3 linked regions of the Homo sapiens genome follow. The protein of the gene in region 1 interacts with the protein of each later gene in a biochemical or structural test. Each region holds a gene or a part of one and is shown in the gene's direction. Other genes may lie near its edges. The genes, in order: USP51, CDK6 and DGCR8.

Evidence for each region.
Region 2: the proteins of USP51 (region 1) and CDK6 form a complex in vitro, tested with the Homo sapiens proteins (one study listed by BioGRID).
Region 3: the proteins of USP51 (region 1) and DGCR8 form a complex in vitro, tested with the Homo sapiens proteins (one study listed by BioGRID).

What each region holds. Positions count from the first base shown.
Region 1 is NC_000023.11:55,486,795-55,494,082, reverse strand, and holds the start of USP51 (ubiquitin carboxyl-terminal hydrolase 51), read left to right. Parts: upstream 1-4,234; 5' UTR 4,235-4,307; exon of another isoform or gene 4,308-4,717; 5' UTR 4,718-4,914; intron 4,915-5,036; exon of another isoform or gene 5,037-5,094; 5' UTR 5,095-5,143; coding exon 5,144-7,279; 3' UTR 7,280-7,288.
Region 2 is NC_000007.14:92,616,488-92,623,622, reverse strand, and holds part of CDK6 (cyclin-dependent kinase 6), read left to right. Parts: intron 1-536; coding exon 537-587; intron 588-5,415; coding exon 5,416-5,551; intron 5,552-7,135. UniProt on the Homo sapiens protein: Serine/threonine-protein kinase involved in the control of the cell cycle and differentiation; promotes G1/S transition. Phosphorylates pRB/RB1 and NPM1.
Region 3 is NC_000022.11:20,104,152-20,111,286, forward strand, and holds part of DGCR8 (microprocessor complex subunit DGCR8), read left to right. Parts: intron 1-2,025; coding exon 2,026-2,126; intron 2,127-2,440; coding exon 2,441-2,547; intron 2,548-3,119; coding exon 3,120-3,247; intron 3,248-4,738; coding exon 4,739-4,852; intron 4,853-5,873; coding exon 5,874-5,957; 3' UTR 5,958-7,135.

The sequences.
Region 1 (7,288 bases):
ATTTTTTTCTTTAATTCTGTCAGTTTTAAGTGTTAACACATTTATGATTTTGAAATAATGCTCTTTGTTTTTGTATCTCTCCTTCTTCATAAATAGGGCATACCAAAGTTTTGTGAGAAAAAAGAAAGAGAAAAGAGCACACGATATGCACTTAATAAATGGTCTGTAATTCTTTGGCCCACTAAGCAGGCAAAGTGCTCAGGGCATCGTAAAGCAAGCCTAGTCAGAGAGAGGTCTGTGCATGTGTGTGGGGAAAAGAGCTGCGCCTTTATTTTCACCCACCTCTAACTTACAGTGATCATGTCCTAAAACTATGAGCCTAGGCATGAAACTCCATTGATAGTAGTACTACATGTGACTGTGTCGCCAACAAAAATTTCGGTATCACATTACACTTCTTTCACATTTCTCAGAGTATCACCTATGCTCAGCACTACTTTGAAACTATGGTAGTTATTATACCCATCTTGTGATAGTTATGTAAGGTTTAATTAAAAAAAAAATTTCCTCACATCACAATATCTTTCTAAAAGTACAAAATGCCATCTCCATACAATGCATTTTTATAATCCCGTGTGTTTAGTTATATATATTTATGTTAAAAATATCATTGTCTTAAGGGATCCACCGGCTGTACCAGGATATCAAAGGGATCCAAGGCACCAAAAGGCTGAGGATCCCTACTGTGATGGTTAATATTAGGTGTCAACTTGATTGGACTGAATTGAAGGACGCCTAGATAGCTGATAAAGTATTGTTTCTGGGTGCATCTGTGAGGGTGTTGTCAGAGGAGACTGACGTTTGAGTCCGTGGACCGGGAGAGGAAGACTCATCCTCAATGTGGATGGGCACCATCCAATTGGCTGCCCGCACGGGTAAGGCAGGGCAGATGGAAGTAGGTGGGACAAGCTGGCTTGCTGAGTCTTCTGGCTTTCATCCTTCTCCCGTGCGGGATGCTTCCTTCTGTTCCTCCTGCCCTCGGACATCAGACTCCAGGTTCTTTAGCCTTTGGGCTCTTGGACTTACACCAGTGGTTTGCAGGCGGGCTCTTGGGCCTCGGGACACAGACTGAAGACTACACTGTTGGCTTCCCTACGTTTGAGGCTTTTGGACTCAGACTGAGTCACTACTGGCTGCTTTCTTCCCCAGCTTGCAGACGGCCTATCATGGGACTTCGCCTTGTGATCATTTGAGCCAATTCTCCCTGATAAACTCCTTTTCATATGTATACATATACGTGTGTGTGTGTGTGTGTGTGTGTGTGTGTGTGTGTGTGTGTGTGTAGGATACATATATCCTATTAGTTCTGTCCCTCTGGAGAACCCCAACTAAAACACCTACTCTAGGGGATGTTTTGAAATGAACATCCAAGGGCAAAGGGAAGGCAATGGACTGACAGGCCGCATGTTTTCACATATGTAATCTCATGTGCACGGACAATACAGAGGCTTCTGTGGTTGAAGTGCTGGAGCCCACAAAAGCAGAAAATGAAGCTGAGGTTGGACCTACTCAGGGGTGGGGGTGGGGGGGAGTTGGAGTAAGTTGGGCAGTTTCCATTTTAACCAAGAGACCACAGGGAGTCACCATGGGTCTGTGGGCAGGAGAGGGCACACTCCAGTGGTGTCTGAGGCTGTTGCTTCAGAAGGTTGGAGGCAGACCAGCTACGAGCTGGAGCACAGGAAGAAAAGGAACAGAAGAGGGGATCCATCCAGTGAGGGGACAGGGGCAGGAGGCTGGGCAGACAAATGTGGGCCCCAAAGGACTGGAACCCAGTCCATGGCACCCTCCCTGCAGCCCTAGTCAGGGGCAGGTAATGGCTCCAAGTCTGCCCTTTGGGATGCTGGCCTCTGAGAAGCGAGGTCATTGAGGGGAAGAGGCCCAGATTGGGAGAAAGAAGGCTGTGTGAGGCTTCAGGGGTCCAGTTTTCAAGGTACTGAGCGAGCCACCAGGAGCACAGAGGCAGGCTTTTTCCCAATCCTGCTCTTTCATACACCACCCCACTCCCAAAGGACCCTGCCACACCTGCCACAGCTAGAATCTGTAAGAGACGCCAACATAACACAGGCCTGGGAAACCAGCTCCATCAGACATGGCTCCTGCTACCAAGGCCAGAGTGCCTTGACCTGGGCTTCTTTACACATTATCCCACAGTAGTGGTTCTCAAAGTACCATCTCCACGCCAGCAGCATCCGCATCAGCTGGTACAGCGTTAGAAACCTAAATTATTGGGCCTCACCCAACCCACTGAACTGGGAACTTTGGGAGTGGGGTCTAGCAGTCTGTTAAGTCCACCAGAAGGTTAGACGCAGCTTCATTTTGGAGGAACCAGTGAACTCCAGAAAGGCCTAAACCATGCAGACCCATTCATTTTCATTTTGACAGTAGTGACCCATCACGCTGTCCTGAGGTTTTCCTACAGGACAATTGTCAATGAAGAAATCGTTTGTTTGGTCACGATAGCGTGTGGGCTGATTTAAAGGCGTGTCTAGCTCAATAACAACTGTTTTCAGAAACTTTTTGAAGCACTGTAACAATCCCACCTCCCAAATATTAAGTTGTTGATTACGAGTGGTTTTTAGGCCTTTATTAACTAACATTAATCTTCACAGCACATTCCTATGCATTTCCCGATGTGGACCTCAGGCAGGGACTCTGGCTTACTTGCTTTTGTGCCCAGTTTTGTTTGGCTGTATATTCATAGTGCCCAGTGCAGCAGTAGGTGCTCTTTACATATCTGCTGAATAAACCAATCTAGGTAGGGCTGGCATTCTCATGATTCTGATTTTGCACAGGAGAAAGCGAAGGCTCAGAAGACAGAAGTATTTATAAATTGTGCCCTGCCTCCCTGCCTGCATAAAGGGTGCAGGGCTGTCTCAGAGCAGCTGGGATCCAAGCCACAGGTGGCACAGCTAGCAAATGACTGACTCAGCATTTCCTTCTAGGGCTGCTAACCCAGAGTGGAGCAACTCTTTGCTTAGCTGTGGCTGAGAAAATGCCCTTCCCTAGGGGAGAAAAAGCACGTTTTCCTGCACAAGCCAGTCTATAATTCCAAAGCACTTTCCCTCCGGGTGCTAGTATGTGACTGAGATATGGTCGAATCTAAACCAAGTCACAAAATCAGTGATATCCATTGTGCGGAGGTATCCACTAGATGCCACTGCCAAGTTAAGAGAGCTGAATCCTAATCGTGAGGTTTTGAGGGGAGGTGTGTGACTTTCTCAGAGAGATTAAATGTAGCATTAAACATCCGCTGTAATAAACCGTAATTTTCTTGGGATTGGACCGGAAGGGCAACAAGCCCTGGAGATAGCTTTCCTCCGGGTTGTCGCCTTGGATGCCGGATCTGTCAAAGAAAAGGAAAAGTCTCCTGGCGTATGGACTTCAGGACACAAACAGTTGTATCTTGTGCTTCTCCCAGCACAATCTAGCGCTATAATGCACCTATGGCATCTTTGTTGAATACATGCTCCTGTATATGGACTGCCTAGGATGGATGATCGGGTGAACTGAGCCATAACTTTGAGAGAGCTTTGAAAGAGAAAGGCATTCTCTTCTCCTCTACTCTGCATCAGGAGTTGTTCTCTATGCTGATTTTCAGGAGCGGACTGAAAAAAGAGGTGTGACAGATAAAGCTCGCCAAAAAGGTCTTTTACTTGATATATACTATGACTCAGTGTTCACATTGGGCTAGGGTTATTATTTCAATTTCTCTTTAAAAATTGACACAACTAAGGCTCAGAGAAGTTAAGTGTTTTATCCGAGGTCACACAGCAAGCATGTGCCTGGGCTCAGGTCTCTCTGAGCCTGAGCCCTTGCTTATGCTTCCTCCCCTGCACATTCTGGGATAATCTCTCTCTCTTTCTCTCTCTCTCTCTCCCTCCCTCCCTCCGTCAACTCCCAGAGACCAGGCTCTGACAGGATCCTGAGGGATTCCTGCCAGAGGGTTGCCATCTCTGGAAGCCCCCACCCCCACGCCGGGTGAATCTTTTTTTCTGTGGAGTGCGGGCCTGGAGCTAGGTGAGGCCTGAGCCTCCATTTCAGGGGCTTTCTGTAGAATCTGTTGCTGCTGTTGCCTCCAGCAGAGTCTGTTTCAGGAAGAGGTTTGCCTGCCTGCGCGGGACAGCGGTGCCATTCATCACTGCAGGAGGGCAGAATCCGGGGTTGGGGGCCGCACGTCGAGAGGGGAGGGGCCAGGGGGCGGCCCCCTTGTGACCAGCCCTGAGGAGAGGTCAGGAGAGAAGGCTGGCTGAGGAGCGCCTGGACAGCAGCAGTTGCTGACGTTCTATATCACGCGCCTGGGGCCCAAGGTAACCCAGACCTTTAAACAAACTGCCGGGCTGGGGGTGTTGCGGGGGCAGGAGAGGGAAAAGGGAGCGGAGACTTCGGGGGTCGCGCGAGGATAGTGGTGGCCATAGAGGTGGCAAATGCGTGAAGGGAGGGAGTAGTAATCCGAATTCTAGGAGAAATCATAGGAATTGAAGTCGCAGAAGCAAGAAAAGGGGTGTGAGAGCACAAGCGCGAAAAAGCGTGAGAGGGCGCAAGAGCTGGGTGGACCGAAAGTGCGCTGAGGGGCAACGGCTTAGAGTGGAACACACCGGGTCACAGAAGTATAGGTTAGGTAGAAACAGAGGGACACTTTCTTCCTGTGAGTTCATTTTCCAAAAGTGCGTCCTTTCAGCCATTTTGGAGAGAAAATGTTGACCCAAGTGTTTTTTAGGATACAGGGAAAGAACGTCAGAGGAAGCTGCACCAAAGCGAGGCTGCGCAGGGCGCAAAAAAGCAGTCAGAGGGTGGCGCCTTTTTTAAAGAAGTTTCCATCCTTTCTGTCCTAAAGCTCAGGCCGTTCCCCACCCCCACCGCTCGCTAGCCTTCTGTTCCCAGTCCCCTGGCATGATCTGATCGCCTTTGAAGCAGGTAACCGCCTCGGTCTCCCCATCAGCTCCAGGGGCCTCTCAGTTGAGTGGGTGGAGCCGACAGAAGCCGCGGGCTGAGCTCAAGGGCCGATGGGAGGGGTCCTGGGGGCGCTAACTGCGCACCGCGGCCATGACGCTGGGCAGATCATTCACAGAAGTCTCTGTCTCCTTTCATCTACAGTCGCAGCTGTTTTCCAGACGCCTTGCTCCTCAGGTCGGGGAGTGATCTGATGGCCCAGGTTCGAGAAACTTCTTTGCCCTCCGGCTCTGGGGTCCGCTGGATCTCCGGAGGTGGGGGAGGAGCCTCTCCTGAGGAGGCGGTTGAGAAGGCGGGGAAAATGGAGGAGGCGGCGGCGGGGGCTACGAAGGCGTCTTCGAGACGTGAAGCCGAGGAGATGAAGCTGGAGCCATTACAAGAGCGTGAGCCCGCGCCGGAGGAGAACTTGACGTGGAGCAGCAGCGGCGGCGACGAGAAGGTGCTCCCTTCAATCCCCCTTCGCTGTCACAGCAGCTCCTCGCCCGTTTGCCCGCGCCGCAAGCCCCGCCCTCGGCCCCAGCCCCGGGCCCGCTCCCGCAGCCAGCCTGGGCTCTCGGCCCCACCCCCGCCTCCAGCCCGGCCCCCGCCCCCGCCGCCACCCCCGCCCCCACCCGCACCGCGGCCCAGGGCCTGGCGTGGATCCCGGCGCAGATCCCGGCCTGGGTCCAGGCCTCAGACACGGAGAAGCTGCTCTGGTGACCTAGACGGGTCGGGGGATCCTGGCGGCTTAGGGGACTGGTTGCTGGAGGTCGAGTTTGGTCAGGGTCCCACAGGCTGCTCTCATGTGGAGAGCTTTAAAGTAGGTAAGAACTGGCAGAAGAACCTGAGGTTGATCTACCAGCGTTTCGTTTGGAGTGGGACCCCAGAGACTAGGAAACGTAAAGCAAAGTCATGCATCTGTCACGTATGTAGTACCCATATGAACAGACTCCACTCTTGTCTCTCCTGTGTCTTTTTTGGCTGCTTCACTGAGAAACATATTCACAAACATGCAGAAACAAAGCAGCACCATTTAGCTGTAGACCTTTATCATGGGGTCATATATTGCTTCATGTGTAAGGATTATGTATATGACAAAGACATAGAACAGATTGCCAAAGAAACAAAAGAAAAAATTTTGAGATTATTAACTTCCACCTCAACAGATGTTTCTCATCAACAGTTTATGACATCAGGGTTTGAAGACAAGCAATCAACCTGTGAGACAAAGGAACAGGAGCCAAAATTGGTGAAACCCAAGAAAAAGAGAAGAAAAAAGTCAGTCTATACTGTAGGCCTGAGAGGGCTAATCAATCTTGGGAACACTTGTTTTATGAATTGTATTGTCCAGGCACTTACCCATATTCCTCTACTGAAAGATTTCTTCCTCTCTGACAAGCACAAATGTATAATGACAAGCCCCAGCTTGTGTCTGGTCTGTGAAATGTCTTCGCTTTTTCATGCTATGTACTCTGGGAGCCGAACTCCTCACATTCCCTATAAGTTACTGCATCTGATATGGATCCATGCAGAACATTTAGCAGGGTACAGGCAGCAGGATGCCCATGAGTTCCTTATTGCAATATTAGACGTGCTACATAGACACAGCAAAGATGATAGTGGTGGGCAGGAGGCCAATAACCCCAACTGCTGTAACTGCATCATAGACCAAATCTTTACAGGTGGCCTGCAATCAGATGTCACATGTCAAGCCTGCCATAGTGTTTCTACCACCATAGACCCATGCTGGGACATCAGTTTGGACTTGCCTGGCTCTTGTGCCACATTCGATTCCCAGAACCCAGAGAGGGCTGACAGCACAGTGAGCAGGGATGACCACATACCAGGAATCCCCTCACTTACAGACTGTCTACAGTGGTTTACAAGGCCAGAGCACCTAGGAAGCAGTGCCAAAATCAAATGCAATAGTTGCCAAAGCTACCAGGAGTCTACTAAACAGCTCACAATGAAAAAATTACCCATTGTGGCTTGTTTTCATCTCAAGCGGTTTGAGCATGTAGGCAAACAGAGGCGAAAGATTAATACCTTTATCTCCTTTCCCTTGGAGCTGGACATGACTCCGTTTTTGGCCTCTACTAAAGAGAGCAGAATGAAAGAAGGCCAGCCACCAACAGATTGTGTGCCCAATGAGAATAAGTATTCCTTGTTTGCAGTGATTAATCACCATGGAACTTTGGAAAGTGGCCACTATACCAGCTTCATCCGGCAACAAAAGGACCAGTGGTTCAGCTGTGATGATGCCATCATCACCAAGGCTACCATTGAGGACTTACTCTACAGTGAAGGGTATTTACTGTTCTATCACAAACAGGGTCTAGAGAAAGACTAGTCTTACCAG
Region 2 (7,135 bases), on another chromosome or scaffold:
GTAATGGTTAGCTGCCATAATATTGGGAGGAAGAAAAGTGGTATAATTAGAAAAATAGACCCAGAGGTGGTTCACTGCAGCATTGAGGACAAATGAAAGGAGAGAGACCCATGAGGAAGTACTCTGATAGCAGAGTAGTATGGAAAAAGTGCTCTGAGAAATATCAAAGAATCTCACCTATTTATGGTTCGAGACTAGGATGGTGGTATGTTCCACCTTATCACGAAGTTAAGCAGATCTTTGAAACCTGGAACTGAATTTGACGGTAGCACTGTTGTAAGAATGACTGCAAACAGAATGCCCGTGATTGTAAAACATGGAATTCATCTACCACCAGGTATTCATGAGAGATCCTAACCCATACATGAAATGCAGGGAAAACCTTCACTTACCAAAGGAAAAATGTCTCAATTTTTTTTACTTCTTCCCAACCCATAAAGAATATTTTGCTTCCTGTGAAACAATGATAATGGCAAATATGATTGAAATGTAATCTGAGAACATTTCTTATTTAAAATGTATCTTTATTCTTTTAGGCCTCTTTTTCGTGGAAGTTCAGATGTTGATCAACTAGGAAAAATCTTGGAGTAAGTAATAATTATAATTTTACACCAGTGTCCATAGCATTAAAACATTTACAGTGACTTTCCTCTGACATGCATATCATGTGTTTATCTCTTGTCTTTCTTACTTCAAGCAGCTGCTGCAGACAGTGTTACTATTTGTGTGGTGAGTGGAGACATGGTAGAAGTGCCGTTTTATGCAGAGCCCTAACTGCTCTGCTCTGGAAGCTTGTATGTTGCTTGTGTGGATCTTTTTGCTGCTCCTCTTTCTTCGTGTGGCTGAGCTCCAGTTCTTTTAGTTCAAATACATTTTCTGCTTGTGGTCATTTCAAAAGCACCCACCATCAGAGATGGGATGCCTGGTGACCAAGTACCCATCCTTGTCCAGTGAGCTTCCTGTCCCCACTGAGTATCCTTGGTCACCCAGGTTGGTTCTGCGTTGTTTTGTTTTGTTTTCCTGGGCGAAGGATGGTATGCTACACATCTCATTTTTCTTTGGAGCACCAAAATAGAAAATGAGAACCCTAAGTCTTTGGCAAAATAACTCTGCAACTTTGAGAAAGTCATTTAAAACACCTCGTGAAGGGCTTACACAGTGCCTGGCACATAGTAAGCACTTTAAAAAGTTATCTATTACTGTTACTATTAGAGTTCATCATTAATTATTTAACCTTTTATTTCCTTAACTTCATCTGAGAAATGAAACTCTGACTTAAATTCTCTATAAGATCCTTTCTTGTGCTCAAATTCTTTGGTTTCAGTTACATCGCTCCTTGATGATTTACATAGTTTCATTCATGTCTGCATGTTCATGCATGTATGCATTCATGTTTCTAGAATGTAACTGGGGCACTTCTTCTGACAAAGCATGCAGTGTGGCATCCTTTTTTGGTTTTTTGTGTTTGAAAGGCCCATCCAAATTGGAGTGGAGTAGGAAAAAAGTGGGAGTTCTAGACCAAAAATAGCCCTGATCTTTGGTCTGTGACATTTTATAGGAATCCCAGTGATTTTTATGAAATTCGAAGTCTGTAAGACTGAAAAAAAAAAAAAAACCACCCCTAAAGAACAGATTTTCATATCAGCACTGTCTACTCAAGCGTGACTGCTTAAAACAGTTAATAAAACTGGAACCTGATTTTGTTCTTTTAGTGACTAGAAGCAGCTAGACTTCTGTTAATGCCAGTGCTACTGCTGAGTCAGAACATAGTAGCTTTAAGGCCTGAATAACATTTGCTAGTTTTTTATGCCTGGGGGCTTCCTGGGTCCAGGGCAGGTGATGCTACTGCTCCTACTACTGACCACTCTGTACAGTGGATAAATTCAACACAAAGCCTTCATGTTACCCCTGCTTCTGAATGGCAAGTTATTTAATCACTCGATGAACTCCCATCTATTTTTCCCCATGACTGTTGAATATATTTTGTGTGCATGTGATCATAAAGAGGAAACTAGGGAAAGCAGACATACTGATGACCTTCTGTTAAAAGGAAAGAGAATCTTGACTAAAGTCAGCTTGCCAGGACTTGAAAGCCATCACCTTCTTTCCCTTATTTATACTACCTGACAGTTGTGTCTACCTCCAGCACTGATGTCTGCAATCTTGTTAACATTGTTAGTGCCCCCTTAGTACATGAGGCCAGTGAAATGGACCAGAAGGAACATTTGACCGGCATGTTTGACCTGCTTCCAAAGAAAAGCCAGTTCTGCTTTTGGCAAAGTCCTGACAATCGTAGGTTGCCAACAGCAAAGAAGCTGTAGAGTTCTATGGTTTGTGCCTTTAGATTTTACTTTGTGGTTTCTGGCATTGTGTCATCAAAATTATGTTCTGTTTCCTCTGAATGCATTACCTTGCCAGAGAAAAGGGACAATGCTGCACCCTAGCGTCACTGCTGAAGTACTTGAAAAAATATTTCTGTCTCCTCCATCACTGCCATTTATAGATTTTGTGCCCTGTTGGGCTTGCCAATATAAATGTCAACTTTTAAGGCTTATATTCAGCAGTCCAAATAGTGGAATTAAGTGCAAGCATTTTTAATGGACCTATCAGAATTTCACAACACATATTTGGGCCATAAAAGTTCATTCTGGACATGAAACCAAATTTTTTTTAAGGAAAGCCATATTCACATACTCTTTTTTATTTTTTTCTTTGGAGACAAGGTCTTGCCCTGTTGTCCAGGCTGGAGTACAGTGGTGCGATCTTGGCTCACTGAAGCCTTGGCCTTCCGAGCTCAAGTAATCCTCCTATCTAAGCCTCCCAAGTAGCTGGGACTACAGGCACAGGGCACCACAACCAGCTAATTTTTATATTTTTTATAGAGATGGAGTTTCACCATGTTGCCCAGGCTGGTCTTGAACTCCTGGGGTCAAGTGGTCCACTTGCCTCGGCCTTCCAAACTGCTGGGATTACAGCCACCCCACCTGGTCCATGTTCACATACTCTTAAAGGGAAAAACATTTCTGTGTTTAGGAAGATTTAAGCCTTCAAGTAATAGCAAGTATTAAAAGTGAAACAATAGTTTTAGCCTGTGACATCTTAGAGCATTTTTAAGAATGATGTCATAGCTAAATGGAAATAAAATATTGGAATAGAGAGAACGGAACTCACTCTGGACTCTGTGACTGAGCTTGCTATCTGTGACTTTGGCAGTTCATTTTATTCCTCATTCTCAATTTCCCCATCTATAAAATGAGACTAATAACACCTGACTTACATGTCTTAGGAAATTATTACAGGAATCAGAGGAGGTGATAGACTTAAAGTTTTATATATATAGTTATGTGTTTGTTTAAAATTTTATATAAAATTATATAAAGTTATTTGTATATGTACACACATACAAACAGAGATGTGCTGTTCCTCTGAAGGCTTTTGGCATTCAGTTGATCATATACTTGCAAGATGTAATTAGATGTAGATACATTCAAAGCCACAAATAAAAAAGATTTTAAATATTTCTAGGAGTTATTAATATAATCAATTTCTAGCTGACTGGTGAATATACACAAAAATATTGATACACATAGACCTGACAACTAAAAAGGAATGAAAGGAAATTTTTAAAGCTCTCTAACAAGCATTTTTCATTCCCTCCTCTGCCCTGTCCCATTGTATCCAGACACTTACACGTGCATTTCTTTTCATAATTAATAGTGGTATTTTTGGTTTTTTTCTTTTTACTTCTATTGTAGGCTGTACTATTGAACAAATCTATATATTGCTCATTGTCATTTCTATTTATTGCTTCTAGTAAATATGTCCATGAATCTGTCTTTGCCTCAATAATGTAGCTCTCTCAGTATGCCTGATAGAGGCCGAATTACAGTGTCTTCCCCAGACACCCAGGCAGAGAAGCCATGATGACAGGGTTATCTTCCCAGCTGAAGTCTATGGCCTGGGCTCCGTGTAGGTGAGGGAAGGGGAAATGAAGTGCTACAGATCTTGAGACCTGTACCACATCTTCCTGAAATCTGGAAGTACATTCATAAGAACACCTCTTCCTGGGCCTTAGTCCCAACAAGTAGAGGCCAAGCAGAAGACCCTAATGTGGGCCAGCACAATTTCTAACTGTAGTTAAAATTATTTGTTCCAGTATTTGAATAGCTATGTACCCCGTCCACTAAACTATGATTTTATTTTTGGTTCAGAGTTATACAGTCTGTGTGAGAAAGAAGTCCCTGCATCCTCTGATTTTCTCTGTTCAAACCTACTTACGACCTATATGTAAACTATAAATAATATCTATACAATGTATAAGTTATGTAAGTCCATTGACCCATTAATTTTTTAAAGAATCTTAAGTTATACATAGATACAAGCAGTTCATATTTTAAGTGTGGTAGTGATGTATTTCCTATGCATCTTGTATTAATAACATTTTCTAATTATAATAATAGTAGGCAGTGTATTGATTGATAATTGACTGTGTGTGATGTATATCAGGTGCTGTGCTTTGTACTTTAAATTATAAATTTATATATTACTATAAATTCAAATAAAGTATAACTGATCCTCATTACAACTGTAAGTTATTATCATTGTATACATAAAGACACTAAGGGTCATAGATGTTAAGTAATTTGTCCTTACCTGCCAGTAAGTGGCAGGTGCAGGATTTGAACCCAAATCTGCCTATTTCCGAAGCCTGTGCTTATCACTTGCTGTTCTTTCCACATTTCTGATCCCAGAATGGTTTTCAGGGGAAATATAAATAATAGTCTTTTAATTTACTGTTTGCTCACTTTGGAATACCACAGACTTCCTTTTATAAAATCATGTTTGTATAATGCAGGACTAGCACGTTTTAGCCTCATTTTTCCTTCTGATTCTAATGTATATATTTAATATGTAGGGAATTGCTCTTTAACCAAAAATGCAACCAAATTGATATGTTAATAAACCATGTTGGATGAGCATCATAAAATCATGTCAATACTGGGGTGTTCGATCAAAACACAAAAAGCATTCTTGGACATAAAGGAAGATATGTACCAGTATGGGTCTCCTCTGAATACAATAAGTCCTGCTTTGTCACTAAGTCAGAGCTTACTGCCTGGTAATATATTTTCTATTTCTACATCATCCCTTACATTTAGTGTCTGCTACCAGAGCAATCTCTTATCTCCTCCCACTGAATTTTACAATTCTTCTGTGAGATTACCCTCTCCCCCATGGCCACCATATTGCAGTAGGACAGAGATAAACAGAGACCCTGCCAGTGATAAAGTGAAGGTCTCCTGGGACTCTGCCCCCCATGTCTCCCCCTTAGATTTTGCCTTTCTCTGGAAATTGATGAGAAAACAGCTTCTGCATAGTAGCTAATGCTTATGTCCATGTGTGGTTCTTTTGTAGCGTGATTGGACTCCCAGGAGAAGAAGACTGGCCTAGAGATGTTGCCCTTCCCAGGCAGGCTTTTCATTCAAAATCTGCCCAACCAATTGAGAAGTTTGTAACAGATATCGATGAACTAGGCAAAGACCTACTTCTGGTAAGTTTTTCTGATGTCAAGCTCGTCTGCACTGTGCCAGTGAGACACCTGCTCTACCCAGACTGGGTGGTGGGCACAAATATCAGTTCAGTAGCTGCTATAGGCATCACATGCCACAGCCACATGGAGCAGGAGGCAACAGTCCCTCCAGAGGTTTCATTTTCACACTTGTAGCAGCTGGTGGCTTTTGATTCTGGAATGTCTTTCTGATCCACATTTTTTTAAATCTGCCATCTTTGAATGTTTATTTCAATGCAGGTTTAGAAGCCTCTCGATTCACTTTGACATATGTTTCTTTAGAAGTAAATATTATGTTTCCTTTCTTACAGTTTCATGCTACTTTAAGTAATTTGTTTGTCATTTTAACGTGCCTTTTCTTAAACATTCACAACTTTGGGGAGATGTTTTTCCAAAAGAACTATATAGCAATACTTCTTCTAGTTGCTGATTTATTTAATAAGTATTTAGTGTGCCAGGGACATATAAAATACCTCACTGAAAATAAGGACTTCTGTGCTCTGAGACTCTTAATGCTCAACCATATACATAATTTCCTATACTTGGAGGCCAGAACAATAGGTAGAAAAGTGTACCTGTTGGGCTGTTCTTGATGTCTGAAACCCAGTGAGTAATGAGTGTCTGCTTTACCTCCTGAATTAACAGCCTTTGATATCTGCTTCTGCCCGTGGGTGAAGCACAGGTCTTCTCCATGTGTCTCATGCTGGGGCCCATGCCAGAGAGGCAGCAGCTCCCTGGGGCATGTTTTTCTCATGATAGAAGGTATCGATGCTCCAGAAGGGCAAGCAGAAATATGCAATGCCCCTGAAGGTCCATACTTGGAAGAAGTACCCGCCACTCTGCCCATGTTCCATTGGCCAAAGCAAGTTCCATGCCTAAGGCCAACTTGAATGGAGGAAAGAATGCTCCCCCTATGGTGAGAGGGGAGAGAAAAGAGGGAATATGTACTAAAAGTTATCCAATCTACCATAGTATCCAACTCTTGACTAAGTTGTGATTCCAAAAGCTCATTTTATAAGTAAACTATTTGGCAATTAAACTAAATTTTCTTGCAGAAACAATATTATTAACACAAAGTTTTTTAATTAACCCTCAACCTGGCAACCTTGTTCCTGAAGTAGAGCAATAATAGAACTTAAACACCTTTTTTTTAACCATATTTCTATAGGACAAAATGTATTAAGACTTCCAACGTGAGATTCTCCCACACCCCCACATTTGGCTAAGGTGTTCTCCTTCTCTCCACCCTCTTCCCAGCTTTAAGCCATCAGTGTAGCTGTGAGGAAAGGGCTTCCTCTCACATAATCCTCTAGAGACATGTCTCTGTATTGTGAATGTATTCCCACAGCTCTTTTCTCTTCTTTCCTATGTCCTGGAGATTAAATGCCACTACCTAATTTTCTCCTTCTTGGGCTCTGGGAAAAGAGAACTCAGGCTCAGGAATTTTGCCCCTGCTTTCCGGTCCTTTGGGAATTCAGCCCTTGCAAAGCTTTTCTAGAGATGTTTCTTGCTGTTAGAGACAGTTGGAACCTTTCTACAGACAAGCTCTTTCTTCCACTTGCCCTT
Region 3 (7,135 bases), on another chromosome or scaffold:
TCGGTCTTTTTTTTTTTTTTTTTTGAGACGGAGTCTCGCTCTGTCGCCCAGGCCGGACTGCGGACTGCAGTGGCGCAATCTTGGCTCACTGCAAGCTCTGCTTCCCGGGTTCACGCCATTCTCCTGCCTCAGCCTCCCGAGTAGCTGGGACTACAGGCGCCTGCCACCGCGCCCGGCTAATTTTTTTTTGTATTTTTAGTAGAGACGGGGTTTCACCTTGTTAGCCAGGATGGTCTCGATCTCCTGACCTCGTGATCCACCCGCCTCGGCCTCCCAAAGTGCTGGGATTACAGGCGTGAGCCACCGCGCCCGGCTGGCGTCGGTCTTTTGCCAGAAACTTCTGAGCGTGCTCTCTAGCTGTGTGTGTGTCAGCCACTGCCTCAGCTTCTCCAGGGCCAGTCCCGAAGCCGTGGGGTATGTGGGTTCTTGTGGGCCGACAGCACTGGACGTTGCTAATTGGTTGGCTGGTTGACAAACCCTTGAGGTTCCAGGGCCTGATGTCTTGGTGAGTGACCTTCCCTGGAAAAAGACCCATGTTGATTTGTGCACTTGAGAGGAGCAGTGTCTTCTGGGGACCTATTTGAAGACAGTAGCCAAGCCATACCTCGAGGATTTTTCGCTTGCCAACCTCAGGGCTAGTGCCTTCCTCTTCTATGCAGTTGCAGCGAGTTGGCCTTGCTGCTTGCTGGAGCGGCGAGGGCAGAGGAGCTGCCCACTGCCCTGTCTGTAGGGCCAGTGTCCCTGTGGAGCGGGCTTGGCACACTGTGGAGCCTGCACAGCGAGGCGTGTGAATCATTTGATTCTAGGTTTCCTCGCTGCCCATGGGCCAGGCAGGCTCCAGGTCCCTGCAGACCCCTCCAGAACAGGGCCAGTGGGGGAAGCACTGTGAGGGTGTGGCTGATGGGTAATCTCCAGTGCTTCAAAGTGTGGTCTTTTTTGGAAAGAGGATGATTGCAGATAGAATTAGGTTAACATGAGATCACACTGAAGCAGAGCAGTGGTGTGATCCAGTGTGTCTGGTGTTTCTCTAAGAAGAGGGAGGAGGGGCAGGGCTAGTAGTCCATATGAAAATCGGAGCAATGCTGCCATAGCCAAGGGATGCCGGGGCCACCAGGAGCTGGCAGAGGCTCCCTAGAGGCTTCTGAAAGAGGATGGCCCTGCTGAGGCCTTGATTTCAGACTTCAGAATGGTGAGAGAATAAACCTCTTGTTCTAAGCCACTGACTTTGTGGTATGTTGTCACAGGAGCTCCACCAGGGAGGTTGTCCATGCTCCAGAGTGGGCTGGATAGCATCTTCCTTTCACCCAGGAGGCACTCTCAGCTTCAGCCAAAGTCCTAGTCTGGGAAGGCACAGTGGGCAATGTCTCTGCACCTCAGCCTGCTGCAGCTTCCCTATGCCTCACTGTGTGGAATCTCCCCATCACCTCTTGTTTCCCTGTCTGCCTCTCTTGTCCTTCCTGTGTGTTCTTGGGTTGGCTGCAGAGCCAGGGTGATGACACTGTTGGAAGCCTTGCTGGGCTGGGCCTCTGCTGGCCACCTGGGGCTGGGCTCTGTGTAGCTGTGTGGGGCTTTGGCCTTTGGGGAGCTGGGCCTTTTAAGGCCAGCTTTTGGGTCTGGCTGACTTTCCCTCTCCTGTAGTCTCAGTTGTGGCAATAGTAAAGCCTCTCTGCAAAGGTGCTTTATCTTTATAGAGTTCTGAGAAGGGTGCCTTATGGATCAGAATCAGATCCAAATAAGGTGGGCCTGGCCAGCCAGCCATGTACCTGGGGCCCTCTTAGGATACCAGACTCCATCCCACAGTGCTCAGGGTGGAAGGGTGCTGTGGGCTCTGGAGATGGGCAACTGGACGGTGAGGTACGGAGCATGTCTTGTACCCGGTGGGTTCCTTGCAGAGTTGAGGTATGAAGTGCTAGGCGAGCTCACAAGAACAGACATTAAGCATCTGGGGAAAGCCAACCGCAGGCCCAGCCATGAAGAGGCCGGTGGGCCTGGTGGGGACTCACAAGCCTCTGCTTTGTGTTGTAGTATTTTAACCACATCAGCATCGAGGACTCGCGGGTCTACGAGCTGACCAGCAAGGCTGGGCTGTTGTCTCCATATCAGATCCTCCACGAGTGCCTTAAAAGGTAGGGTAGGGGGGTGCCTCCCCCCATGAGTCAGGTCGGGGGAGCTCCTCTCTGGCGTCTCATATTCTTGTGGCTGTTTGTCCCAAGGCAGAGGCATGGCCAGGTTTCCCTGGGTACACAGCAGCCCCTTGGCCCTGGCCACCAGTCAGTCCCACAGGCCTGAATCGGGCGTGTGGAGAATTCCCTCCTCTGGCTGAGATGCAGTCTGGGGAGAGGCTTGGTCATTTCCTAAGGGCTTCCCAGAGCAGGCCTCCTCAGAGGCAGCTGGCTGCTCTGCTCAGGGGACGCCATCTGTTGTCTGTTTTCTCTTAAAGAAACCATGGGATGGGTGACACGTCTATCAAGTTTGAAGTGGTTCCTGGGAAAAACCAGAAGAGTGAATACGTCATGGCGTGTGGCAAGCACACAGTGCGCGGGTGGTGTAAGGACTCCTTCTCTGCTGCCTGGTGGCCGCTGGGCGGGCGGCCCCTGGTGTGGCCCTGCGCCTCTGTGGCTTGGTCTCAGCTGTTGCCCTGGCATTGTCCCTGAGCCCAGCTGTGTGTGCTGGCCACCACACGTTCAGCCTAAGGCGGACTGGCAGCCGTCCTGCCTGCACTTTCCCTGTCTTTTCCCTTTCCCCCGCTGTCACCCCTGTCTCCGTCCAGCCCTTGTCCCTGTGGCAGGAGGAAAGGCCCTCCTCCTCGAACAGCCAGCAGAATCCTGCTGCTCCCTGTTTCTGGAGGTGTGCGTCTTGGCGGGAGGGAGGCTCTCGGCTGCGTGGCTTTGAGTGGTAGTGTCCTCAGCTCCTAGACTCTGAGGGCCACTCTCTCAAGGTGGCAGCTGGGTACTGTGAGACTCAGGTGCCCAGAGCAGTGGCAGAGTGCTGCCTATTCCTGTAGAATGTGCCCTGGCTGGCCCTCGGGGTGTGGGTCAGGAGGGCTGGGAGCGGCAGGGGGCCCCATGAGCACTGGGTGTTTGTGACCCCCTCTCCATGCTTGCTCTTTCTCTGTGTAGGTAAGAACAAGAGAGTTGGAAAGCAGTTAGCCTCACAGAAGATCCTTCAGCTGCTGCACCCACATGTCAAGAACTGGGGGTCTTTACTGCGCATGTATGGCCGTGAGAGCAGCAAGATGGTCAAGCAGGTAACTGGCCATCAGCAGGTCCCAGGGCAGCCTGTGCTGCCACCCTGGAGCGTATTCCTGAGGCTCTGTGCTCAGAGGGGGCAGAGCTGGGCAGCTCTGCTGTTGCTCACAGCTGCCTCTCTCCTGGGCCACTTGTGTGGCTTTGTGGGCAGGGGTGGGGTCGTCCCAGCTACATCTCCTATCCCAGCCTGCTGGGCATGGTCAGTGAAGTGTGGGTGATTGGGAACGCAGGCTGGGCCCAGCTATGTGGCTTGTAGGGAGATGGCCAAAGTGCAAGGCAGGGCCAGGCAGGAGATGCTGAAGGTGCGCCCGGCTCGGAGGTGTGCAAAGGCTCAGGAGCCAGGGCCAGCTCTCCCTGCTTGAAGGAGAGCGAGTGTGTCAGGGTAGCTCTCCCTGGTACCAGTGCCGGTCCATCTCTAACAGAAGAGCATATGTGTACCATCTGTCTTGTTTCTGCTGTTGTGGCCAACATCCTGCAGTGTAAGCCAGTGCCCACTCCTGAGGGGTGGAGGGTAACATGGGGAGGTGAGTGTAATCATTTTCCTCAAATGATTACAGAAACTCTCTGGGTTCTTGCCCTCCTGGTCATTGGAAGGGGAAGTAGTTGTGGAGGGGTTAGGCCTGCAGGTGGGGCAGCCCTAGGACTGTGTGGTGGGTGGGCCCTCTGCCCAAGCCAGCTGCCAAGAGCAGGGCCTGCCTTTAGGTCCCTGAGACCGAGGCCTCGGCACTGTCCCCGAAGAGGCCTTTACTCTGGACATGATAAGGGAGGGTGAGGGGGCTCACACGGGCCACCAGGGCATGTTAAGGAACTTGAGAGAGATTTTTGGGAAGCAAGTTGAAATGTAGGTAGCACTTGCTTCTGCCCTTGCTGTGCATGGTCCTTGGCTGTGACGGAGGGAGAGAAGGCAAGCCCCACTCTGGCCCGGGGGTGGGAAACTTCCCTGAGCAGGAGGGGGAAAGGTCCCAGCCAGGCACAGCCACAGCTTGGGGGAGCTCTGGCATCCCGAGGAACCACAGCACCCTTGGGGCTGGCCTAAGACGGGAAGGGGCTGAGGCCAGCCTGATGCTGCTCTGCATTCATGGAGTGTGCAGAGAGCTCAGTGCCTGAGGCTGATGGGCTGGGCTGCAGCGTGCTGTTCTTACTGGCTATGGCCACACTCTGGTTTCACTCCTTGATGAGGACTCTGGGCACCACGAGCACCTCACCTCCCTACTCTGCCCATGGCAGGAGGCCATATAAGTGGCGTGGTGTGGGCAGAAAGGCCTGGCAGCTATGGACTGCCCCTCGCTCTCTGCTGCTGTCAGTGGGCCTGGCATCACTGAGGCGGGCCAGTCAGCATGCAGTTATGTTGCCACAGCTCCTGGCTGTTTCGTGTCTGCCAGACCCTGGGCGCGCCTGCCTTCAGGGTCCCAGGCACACAGCTGCTGGGCAGCGGGCAGGCCGTAGAGCTACAGCCTGCAGTCCTGAGCGTGAGGTGCTATACTTCCCAGGAGACATCGGACAAGAGTGTGATTGAGCTGCAGCAGTATGCCAAGAAGAACAAGCCCAACCTGCACATCCTCAGCAAGCTCCAAGAGGAGATGAAGAGGCTAGCTGAGGAAAGGGTGAGTGCCACCCTAGCGGGAGGGCTGCCGGGCCACGGCCATTCCTGTGGCACCTGTGGAGGGACAGCAGACCCCAGGACCCGTGCCTGAGCTGACACCTTGGAAATGCTTGGATCCTCCTTCCAAAATCAGATACAGGCTTTTCTTTGAGCTTCGACATGTGTGATAGTTTTATAAATCACTTCAGTTTTGGTTCTGTTGTTAGAGAGCTGGCAGGCCAGCCTGTTGGTGGACCATGAAGGTCACAGTCTTGGTGGGCCACCTGAGTCCCATGTCCTCCCTGGGTGTTTGGAGGTAGGTCAGTGCACCTGCCAGGGTTGAATCTGTAGGGCTTGGTCCTGATGAAGCCTCCTAAAGCCACCTTGGGAACCCCACTCAAAGAGGGGCCTGTCAGGCTGGCAGTGGTGTCTTCTGTCTTCAGGCATCGTCTGCCTGGCCACGGCGTGACCTGCCCACCTGGGCCTTCTGGGTGGGAGCTTTCTTAAGTGTGGCAGTCCCCTGGCCTGGGTGAGAGCCCCAGGAGGTATCTGCTGCCGCCCAGGCCAGCAGGTCCCTTGCTGCTCCCTGGGGTGGGGCTTGGCCTCCTGGAGCCAGTGGGACTGCCTGGTTTGCCCCTGGTCGGAAGAGGGGCTGTGGGGCTCAAGGGCAGCAGGTGCAGGACATAGTGCTCCTGGCTGGGCCTGGGGCAAGCAAAAGCTGGGCAAGGGAGGAACACCCAATGGGGAGGCCTGGCCTGTCCCTGTAACTGCACCCAAAATTCTTCACTTCTTGGTACATGTCCTGATTGCCAGGGAGGCTGCACATGTTGTACTCTGATGGCAATGCAGGGGGCCTCTGCAATCTCAGGCTGGCCTGCCCCAGGCCTTCCCTGCTCCTCCTAGCCTGGCATCACAAGCACTGGTGCCGTTGGGGCTCCAGGGCCTCCTGGCATGATCTGCTGGGCTCTCCCTCCACCTTGTGTCTTCCCGAGCCTCTGCCAAGCCCACCTCACTGGTACCCCTGACCTTTGTTGTTCTTTCAGGAGGAGACTCGAAAGAAGCCCAAGATGTCCATTGTGGCGTCCGCCCAGCCTGGCGGTGAGCCCCTGTGCACCGTGGACGTGTGAGGGAGGTGGCACGGGCCAGGGCGCGGGGGCCGCCAGCCGCACTTCTGAGGAGACCAGCAGTCATGCATCGTGCACCACAGTGTCAGGCCTCCAACCCACGCTCCTTCCCTGTGGCCAACCTGTGGGCCCGGCCTTAGGGTGGAGGCTTTAGTGTACAGGGACAGCCATGGCCACACAGCACACATGTGGAGCAGCGGCTCTCCCTGGAAAGCTCCAGGCCTGAATGGATGGACTCAGCGACTGCACCAGTGGCAGCTGGTGACTGTGGACAGTGGTGGACCCTGCTTCTGTGCACCTGCTGCAGGCTCTTTTTATGAAGGCTTTCATGAATTTTAGTATGTAATACGCACTGACGACACATGATGCTTGGATGACAGATGAGAGGGGATGGCTGAGTCCTGTGGCTGGCCCGTGATGCCAGGTGGCCCATGTGCCCAGGGCGCCTGCAGGGCTGCTACAGGGACCTGGTCAGGAGGTGCACATGGTGCCCTGCCCTCACCCACCCTCTGTGTTTCCCCTTCTTTGAAAAGGTAGAAGAGAAAGGAATATTTTAAACCTTTTTGGCTTAAACAGAATTTTAGCATCAGAACTAGCTTTCTGGGATTGGAGGCAAACCATCAAGGTGGTCCCTCTCCAGTCTGGACACGATGCCAGCAAGGATGACGTCCTGCCACCTCCTGGAGTTACCCTGGCCTCCTAGGGTCCCTTTTTCTGATGAAGTCTTAATTCCCTAAAAGCGCCTCTTTGGACACTGAGGCCCTCTCTGCCTTTCCTGGCCTCCGGCAACAGTTTTTTACAAAGATTTTTTGCAGTCGAGTCCATATGTCCACCCATTGATTTTTAAAGCTTTTGTGATATTTTAGCATTTTGAAAGACTTTCACAGTGAGAGTAGAAGGTAGATTTGGAATCATGCATTTTAGCAAGTGGACTTGTTGAAACAGGAAGCAAGGGCCTTCAGTGTAGCCCATTCTTGATCCAGAGCTGTTGCCTGTGACAGCGGTTTCTCTGGATGTCAAAGGCAGCTGCCTGGTGCCCAGCTTGCTTCTCGACTGGTGGCCCCTATGGGTGGGTGTGCGATGGAAATGTGTTCCTGCCGGAGTCTGAGGCACCAGGGTGTGCTCAAAGGCTGGCCCTGGTGGTGGACTGGCACCTGTGCAGAGTGCCGTGTGCTTGTGGT